Regions from separate parts of the Homo sapiens genome. Here all the other regions are linked to region 2. The links come from fine-mapping of genetic effects on gene expression. A gene starts in region 2. Each other region holds a variant in brackets. All regions are shown on one strand. Distances are from middle to middle.

Region 1 (2,500 bases), 47 kb before region 2:
CCCCTTAAGAGATGTACATGCCAGCAGCTGACTGCTGACGTCTAGGGAGTCAACACACGGCTAAGGATGTGCCTGGCAAAAGACTCAAAGAGCTCAAAAACAGAATCAATTCAGGGTGGAACCAAGAAACAGGAGATCTCTGTCCCTCAGAAACTATAACTGATGCCAATTTACCCTTAAATGATCAAAGATTTGGGGAAAGGTTTTTAGTTTCCATATATCATCCACTGGCTGAATGTGATATAATTATCTGAAGATTAAACCCATTTCAGTATCATCCTGTGAATGCACTTGTAGGATGGGAAGGGCCCAGAGAGGAGTTTGCCTGGTCCTTGAATGGTCCCATTGTGTTGGGTGGGGAAGAAAAAAAAGGAAGGGGGAGCTTATTAAAATTATTACCTAGAACTTGTATTAATAGCATCATTGAAGATAAAGGCTGGCTGGGCATGGTAGGTCATGCCTGTAATCATCCTAGCACTTTAGGAGGCCAAGGCAGGCAGATCGCTTGAACCCAGGAGTTCGAGACCAGCCTGGGAAACATGGTAAAAACCCCTTCTCTAAAAACAATATAAAAAATTAGCCTAGTGAGGTGGCATGCAACTCTGCCACCTACTTGGGTCCCAGCTACTTGGGAAGCTGAGATAGGAGGATTGCTTGAGCTCAGGAGGACAAGGCTGCAGTGAGTGAGTTCTGACTGTGCCACTGCACTCCAGCCTGTGTGCAACACGAGACTCTGTCTCAAAAAAAAGGGTTACATTTTCAAAACAATGGATTATACATTATGGTTCTATCACAATCATGACCAAAAAAAATGTAGAGCTCATGCAGGGCTCACAAACTGCTCATGCGTCACATTCAGCTTTTTGCTTGACCTGTACTGTGTTTTTTTGATTGTTTCCTTCTTTAACTGAATTAGTAGCTAACGGTTAGAAATTGGGATATATCGCTGAAAACCTTGGATTTTGGTTTCTCTTTAAAAATCTGAAGAGCTGGCCTGTACTCCCATATGGTAACAATCTGCTAAAGCTAAGTGCTCTTTAAATGGTATGTGTGCTCAATTGGTCATAACTGCTCTCACTTCATTCTCTCATTTACTTACCAGTCTGGTCCCTGAAGTCTTTTGAAGAGAAGTTAATTCATCTTTGCATGTGTGCCTGTATGTATGTGTGTGTATATACACACACCTGTTATAGATATGTATATATATACACACGGCTATAATATATATGTATATATACAGAACACATGACACATACACCTCAACTCTCATTGTTTTAAAACTTTAAAATTTTAAAAACTTCTAGCAGAGTTAAACTACACTCAATAATTTTTATTTTTCCAACACCCATCCCCAACCCCACCACCAAAAAAAAGATTGCAAATAAGAACAAACATACTTTCCTATACTTACCTATGGGGTCCACCCAAATTCCCAAAATGTCCTGTGGAACATTGATCTCTGTGGAATCCAGAGTTGGGTCAGTAAAGGCAACATCCTGATGAACAACCCTGGCTAATGCTTCAGATGC[C/T]ACCTTGTTACCATTGAGGACTTTGCTAAGAAGCTCTGCTGTTTCCTCCTCTGTTGAACACAACCTCAAGGTAATCTTTTCCCCTAGGGTAAAGCCACACGATAAGCCATTACATTTCAAGAGTTTCAGTGGAGAAAGAACAGAGAGAGAGAGCTAAAGAGTGAGAGAGACAGAGAGAGCGAGAGAGAGAGACAGAGAGAGAGCGAGAGACACAGAGAGCGAGACAGAGCGAAAGAGCGAGAGAGACAGAGCAAGAGAGTGAGAGAGAGACACACAGAGAGAGCGAGAGACACAGCAAAAGAGCGAGAGACAGAGAGAGCAAGACAGAGAGAGTGAGACAGAGTGAGACAGAGTGAGACAGAGTGAGAGCAAGAGAGACAGACAGGGAGAGTGAAAGAGACAGAGCAAAAGAGTGAGACAGAGCAAGCAAGAGAGAGACAGAGCGAGAGAGTGAGACAGAGAGAGTGAGACAGAGCGAGAGAGACAGAGAGCGAGAGAGAGACAGGAAGAGTGAAAGAGACAGAGGGAAAGAGTGAGACAGAGAGCAAGCAAGAGAGAGACAGAGCGAGAGAGCGAGACAGAGCAAGAGACAGAGAGCAAGAGACAAAGAGCGAGAGAGACAGCGAAAGAGCGAGAGAGAGCAAGAGAGACAGAGCGAGACAGAGAGCGAGAGATTCAGGGAGAGACTGAGAGAGACAGAGTGAAAGAGACAGAGAGACAGAGAGAGCAAAAGAGTGAGACAGAGAGCGAGCGAGAGAGAGCGAGACAGAGCGAGAGAGCGAGAGAGAGCGAGACAGAGCGAGAGAGCGAGAGAGAGCAAAAGAGTGAGACAGACAGTGAGCGAGAGACAGTGAGACAGAGCAAGAGAGCGAGACAGAGCAAGAGACACAGAGAGAGACAGAGCAAGAGAGACAGAGAGCGAGAGAGACAGCGAGAGAATGAGACAAAGATTGAGACAGAGAGAGCGAGAG
Region 2 (2,853 bases):
AGATAAAATGTAAATCTAGGTAGAATCTATGTGGTGAGCACATAGGCGTTTGCTTTAAATTTTTATAATTTTGCTATATGTTTGAAAATCTTCAAAATAGAATGTTAAGATAATTTTCTTTAAAGGACTGAGGTTTCTAGAGCGGGAAGCCAGAAGACGATAGCATCATTAGAAGAAATAGAGAATTTAGGAATAGGAAGGACAGCTTGGTGGAAGGTGTGGCATAACTGACAGGTCTTGATACCTACGAAGTCCTAAGTAATTTATGCACATATTTCTATATTTCAATGGATCTTCACAAACACCTCTAATCATCAGCACATCCATTTTCAGATGAGAAAATGGAGGTTCTGAAAAGCTATATAATTTGTTCAAGGTCATTAAACTATTAGTGTGCTAGGGGTAGGACTGATTACATAATTTGCAGGCCTAGTGTAAAATGAAAATTTGTGTTTCCTTGTTCAAAAATTATTAATAGCACAGCATTAAAACAAGCACAGGGCCCTTCTAACGATGAGGCCTTGTGAGACTCAGGTTTCACACACATGAAGCTAGGGCGGCAAGGAAGATTTGAATCTCAGTCTGACTAACAGGAAAGCCCATGCTTTTTCCAGTAAACCATGCTAGGTCAGATGAATGGTTCATTTCTGTGCGCAGTGAATGAGGCATGATGGTGATGTCAGATGGTGATGTCCTGTAGCCAGTTAAAAACCAAATTGCAGGTAAGGAGTTCCTTCTGTGATGTCTGTTGTCTGTCCTCTTCTCAGTGGGCATTTGGTTATTACATTTGACCTAGGTTAGCAACGTAATTTTTGATCAAAGTCTCAACAGTGTATCTCTTTAAATATCAAGGTACTAAGAATAACTCCTTTCATGTGTCCTCTCTGAAATTTGTCACCGGATTTCTTCTTTCTGATAAATGTGTCAATACTTAATAGTGGCGATGAAATGTCTTCTGCTACACATCTGGGTGGATCTGGAAGCGGAGGAACGTTTTCCTCAATTTAACAGTGGATCCTAGTAGTTGAGTTAAATGTTGGTTTCATTTAAGAGTAAGCTACTTTCTGAATGTAATTATGCTTCCACTGATAACAGCAACTTTTACTTTAGTTGGGAAGACATATCTATTATGTCTTAATCAGACAACTCTTGTGTGTCTTTGAGGAAGAGTGGGAGATCTGTAACTTTTCCCAAGAAAAATGAAAATGTCTCAATCCTAATATTAAAGGAATTCGGCTGTATTGGGTTAGGAATGAATAAACTACATCGATGTCCTTTATCAACTGTAATTCCTCTACTTGAGTCTCAAAGAATACTAAGTTTACGTTTTAATAAAAAATTACTAAAATTCCAGAAAAGTCTTTCACATCAGTCCCTGCTGGTCAAATTGGCAGGCCAAGCCTAGACAACAGGTTGCGCTTTGGGCTAAGACAGCCTCTAGAGGGCAATCTCCTTTCCTGCGAATCCGCCCTAGTCCGTTCTATCCTCCCTCTTCCCGCTCCGCCTCAGCTCGCTCTCCGCCTTCTCCCTGGCCCGGTCCCCGATCCCTTCCTCTCCCTCAACTATTTCCTCCAGGCGTCGTTCTTGCCCCGCCCTTCCCCGTCGCGTAGCGGAAACGGTCGCTCTGGCTTCCTGGAGGACTTGTCATCTGTGCCCGGCGGCGCAGGACGGCGGTGGGCGGGGCTCACGCGAGGCGCTGGAACGGTCCGGGAGATTCTCGCTCTGCTGCTTTAGCTTCGGAGTGTTTGGCGATGGGGCAGCGCGAGATGTGGAGGCTCATGTCGAGGTGAGTGAGAGAGCGAGGGGCCAAGGGCAGGCTCTTCAGCGGCACTCGCCACAGTGGGAAAAGGGCCGGGGGTGGAGACTGCTGGCCTCGAAGTTTCGAGTCGCGCTCAGAGGCGCCGCTGTGAGACCCCAACCTTGGCCCTCCCCAAGCCCCAGCCCCCGTCCCTGTCTTTCCTTTCTCCCTCTAGCATCTTCTTTGCAGCAGCACTCTGGTTTTCTGCCACTCTGGCTCTTAATTCAGGCTTGTCCCCACACGACTTTAATTCTTTTGGCCTCAGTTTCTTTCCTTTCTTAAAAGTTGGGTGCAGTCTGGGGACACGGACAGATTTAGCTTAGCGGAACTGTGCGGCATGTTTTGTGCAGCCAGCACACACAGGTGCTTTGCCAGTTGCTGCACCTCTCTCTGCCCGTGGTGTGATTTTATTCAGCTTTCTTGCATGGCTGCAGCGTCAGTATAGGCATTTGGAACTTTCAGGCTAGTGTTGAGGGACATTTAACGTGGCATGGGGGAGCATGTTTGCAAACATTGTTTAACTTTTTGAAAGTACCCCTCACTGCGCTTTGAGCTCAGCCTAGGAAATCTGGTAGCCATCATCTTTAGGCTGCATGCGCCTTAAACAGCCCACTGCCTGGCCCTGTACTGTCATACCAGGTAGCAGCTGCGCCCACTTGAAGGGAGAACCGTCCTTATTTCTTTAAAATAAGGACGACTTAAATTACTGGATTCTTTAAGCCTTAGAGTTTGCCTTCTGGGTTTCCTGAAAAGGGATGGAGGTGTTTCCTTGACTTAAGAAGAATAGTTTCAGGGGAAAGTGTCTAGATGTCTAACACTGTATCCACAGACCTAATTCTCAGTAAATTTTTGTTATACATTTAAGAGTTGCTTTTCTGTTTGTTTTTTTAATACCTTAAAATTAGTTGTCCTTGCACCAGCTCATGGAGAGATTTAGTAAATGCTAAGAAAATCAGTACACGTAATCGTTACTGCCGCTTTTTCAGTGTTGTCAGCAAATAGCAAATAGAGAAACAAACTGGAAAGACATGTTTGTTAAAGTTAGCTGACTTAGG
Region 3 (2,853 bases), 120 kb after region 2:
TGGTTTCCGCATTTTTAAATGGTTGGGAAAAGAAATCAAAGACTAATAATTCATGACGTGAAAATTATCAGAATTCACAAATAAAGCTTTATTGGAACTAGCTATACTCATCTGTTTATATATTATCTGTGGCTGCTTTGAAATGAGTAGTTGCAATAGAGATGGTAAAGCCTACAAAGCCTAATTATTTACTGTCTGGTTTTTGTCAGAAAAAAGTTTGTCAATCCTTGTTTTAGAAGATGGAAAAATGTGAAGATCTTTGGAGATTCTCTTGAGTGGTATATCTAATTGAAATGGGATCTTCGTTTGGCTTGTATGTTGATGAAATCAACTTAGGTATACAATATAAAAAATAAAGACCCTGAAAATTGTTTTGGATACTGTGTTAATGCCTCATAGAATTTTTGTTTTGGATACTGTGTTAATGCCTCATAGAATTTTCTCCATATATGAGTGTGTTTTAAAGTAACTGAGTTACTGTAGCAGAAGAGCTCCTTTTATAAACATTAGAAACCTTGGGCAGAGAGAAAAGATTTTTATTAACGTCCCTCTTCAGTATTAACTCAGACTTGGTCTTCCCTAAAATAATCAGAATACCATCCCATGGTGAAACTGAAAGGATTATTTTCTTGTTATTTGTGATATTTGTTAATCTGGTAGAATGAGAAATTAGGAAACTCCAATCTCTTAGATAGAGACACTCTGTTTTTTTATAATTTACGTAAGACTTTTGTGTGATAATTATCCTTACAAACAAGGTTCAAGTCAGGAGAAAAAAATTAATTGAAAGCAAGAAGACTTTTGTTCAAAAGATATATTCAATAATTGATATTGTTAATGAAGTAAGTACTTTTTAAGGTATGAAAGAACTAAAAGGTATTCCAGACTCAGAACCTTAAAGTTCTAGGCAAGAATAATTTTTAAACTAAAGGTAAGTTTATAAATTAACAAAGTAAACAAAATTTATGATTTTGTTTTTTGTTTGTAATTTTTGTTTAATTTTAAAGGTAAGTTTATAAATTAACAAACAAAATTTATAATTTTTTGTTTGTAATTTTTGTTTATAAACAAAATAAATTTTTTGTAACTTGTTATAGTTTCTCCTTCATCCCATACTCTTTAGAAACTAAGTGAACTTCAGGTTTGTAAGAATAAAAAGCCAACGGAACTGAAAAAGACATTAAAGATCATGTCCTGCACCCTTCTCATAGATGAGGAAATGGCAGCCCAGAAGGTATTGCTTTATGTTTTCTCAGTTCTTAATCTGTTTTATGTGAAGCATTTTTCTTTCAAATAATTCAGTAACAGATCTGGAATAAAGATGCCATGATATCGGATACATTTACATTTATACTCTTAAAGGTCCTAAATTGGACCTGAATGATCCAAGAAATTATTTGTATAAATGGATTTTTGTTCTCTATATTTGTTAACAATGCAGAAAATGTTGTCTTTTATATTGTTAAAAAATTCAAAGTACACACTGTCAGAAAGCATTTGCTTCAGTTAAATAAGAGCTCACACTAGTTAATTGCAACTGGA[C/G]TTTTATTGTGCAGTTACAACAACAAATGTTTTCAGAAAAATATTTGGAAAAAATATACCACTTCATAGCTAAGTCTTACAGAGAAGAGGATTTGCTAATAAAACTTAAGTTTTGAAAATTAAGATGCAGGTAGTGCTTCTGAACTAATGCCCACAGCTCCAAGGAAGACATGTCCTATTTAGTTATTCAAATACAAGTTGAGGGCATTGTGATTAAGCAAACAATATATTTGTTAGAACTTTGTTTTTAAATTACTGTTCCTTGACATTACTTATAAAGAGTCTCTAACTTTCGATTTCTAAAACTATGTAATACAAAAGTATAGTTTCCCCATTTGATAAAAGGCCAATGATACTGAGTAGGATATATGCGTATCATGCTACTTCATTCAGTGTGTCTGTTTTTAATACTAATAAGGCAGTTTGACAAATTATTTCTTTGGGACTAAGGTGATTATCATTTTTTTCCCCTTCAAAATTGTGCTTTAAGTGCTGATAACCACAGGCAGATTGCAAAGAACTGATAAGGCAACAAAAGTAGAGAATTTTAGGATCAAAGGCATGTAACTGAAAGGTAACAACAGTACATAAGCGACAACTGGGGAAGGCAGCAGTGAAACATGTTTGTGGGGTTAAGTGAGTCATTGTAAATAAGGAATTTGCACATTTATTTTCTCTGATAACCTGCTTCCATGTTGCCACCTGGAGGCTCTTTGTTGTGCTGGTAGAAGCCCATTTGCCCTTACTCTGGATGTTCCAAATGTTTCCCTTTCCAGGAGCTAGTCAGTCTTTCAGTCATCTGTTTTATATGTCTCCTGCCTTCTCAGACAGTCCTTCTACTCTCTTTTATTGTTCATGAAAGACCTTCAAATTGAAGTAAAGCCCATATTTCAATATAAAGATATGAAAGAAGGCTAATATCCTATCAGTGATATTCTCATCCATCTTGTCATGAAGGCCATACCATGATAACTATCACATGTAATGTAAATTTGTTTATTCATCTCTCTTATTCATTTATTCATCTTTTTTCATTTGTTTATTCATCTTTCTCCCATTTGCTCCTGTCTTGATTTATCCACTAGCTCACTGATTATGCAAGCCTTGTAGTTCATATATGTCATGGGTTAACATACAATACAGCATATATTTCAGACATAAGTGTTTCAGAAATATTGTACAGAAGATATTGTACTCTATTAAAATGTGATTCAGGGACAAGGGAGTGGTGCTTGGTGATAAAAGTATACTGCCATAGTTGCTGAGGAAGGGCAGCAACAGAAATCAGACTTCTAGTTGATATGGATCTGG

Evidence for each region. PIP is the estimated chance that this variant, and not a neighbour inherited with it, causes the effect. A credible set is the group of variants that fine-mapping cannot tell apart.
Region 1: its variant is the best candidate, but not a certain one, in a credible set for the expression of HIBCH in fibroblasts (GTEx, PIP 0.50).
Region 3: its variant is the best candidate, but not a certain one, in a credible set for the expression of HIBCH in whole blood (TOPMed, PIP 0.66).

The regions. Positions count from the first base shown.
Region 1 is chr2:190,365,807-190,368,306 of GRCh38, reverse strand. INPP1 (inositol polyphosphate-1-phosphatase) reads right to left here. Exons shown (of 7, transcript NM_001128928.2): 5 at 1,412-1,612. Among named protein-coding and RNA genes, the nearest start is that of INPP1, 23 kb to the right of the region's middle. The variant C/T (reference allele first, on the strand shown) is at 1,530.
Region 2 is chr2:190,318,649-190,321,501 of GRCh38, reverse strand. It overlaps HIBCH (3-hydroxyisobutyryl-CoA hydrolase), which reads left to right and starts at 1,676. Exons shown (of 14, transcript NM_014362.4): 1 at 1,676-1,786. The coding sequence starts at 1,752.
Region 3 is chr2:190,202,159-190,205,011 of GRCh38, reverse strand. It overlaps AKAP19 (A-kinase anchoring protein 19), which reads right to left. Exons shown (of 2, transcript NM_001042519.2): 2 at 1,528-2,853. HIBCH (3-hydroxyisobutyryl-CoA hydrolase) reads left to right here. Exons shown (of 14, transcript NM_014362.4): 14 at 1-1,092. Among named protein-coding and RNA genes, the nearest start is that of AKAP19, 23 kb to the right of the region's middle. The variant C/G (reference allele first, on the strand shown) is at 1,543.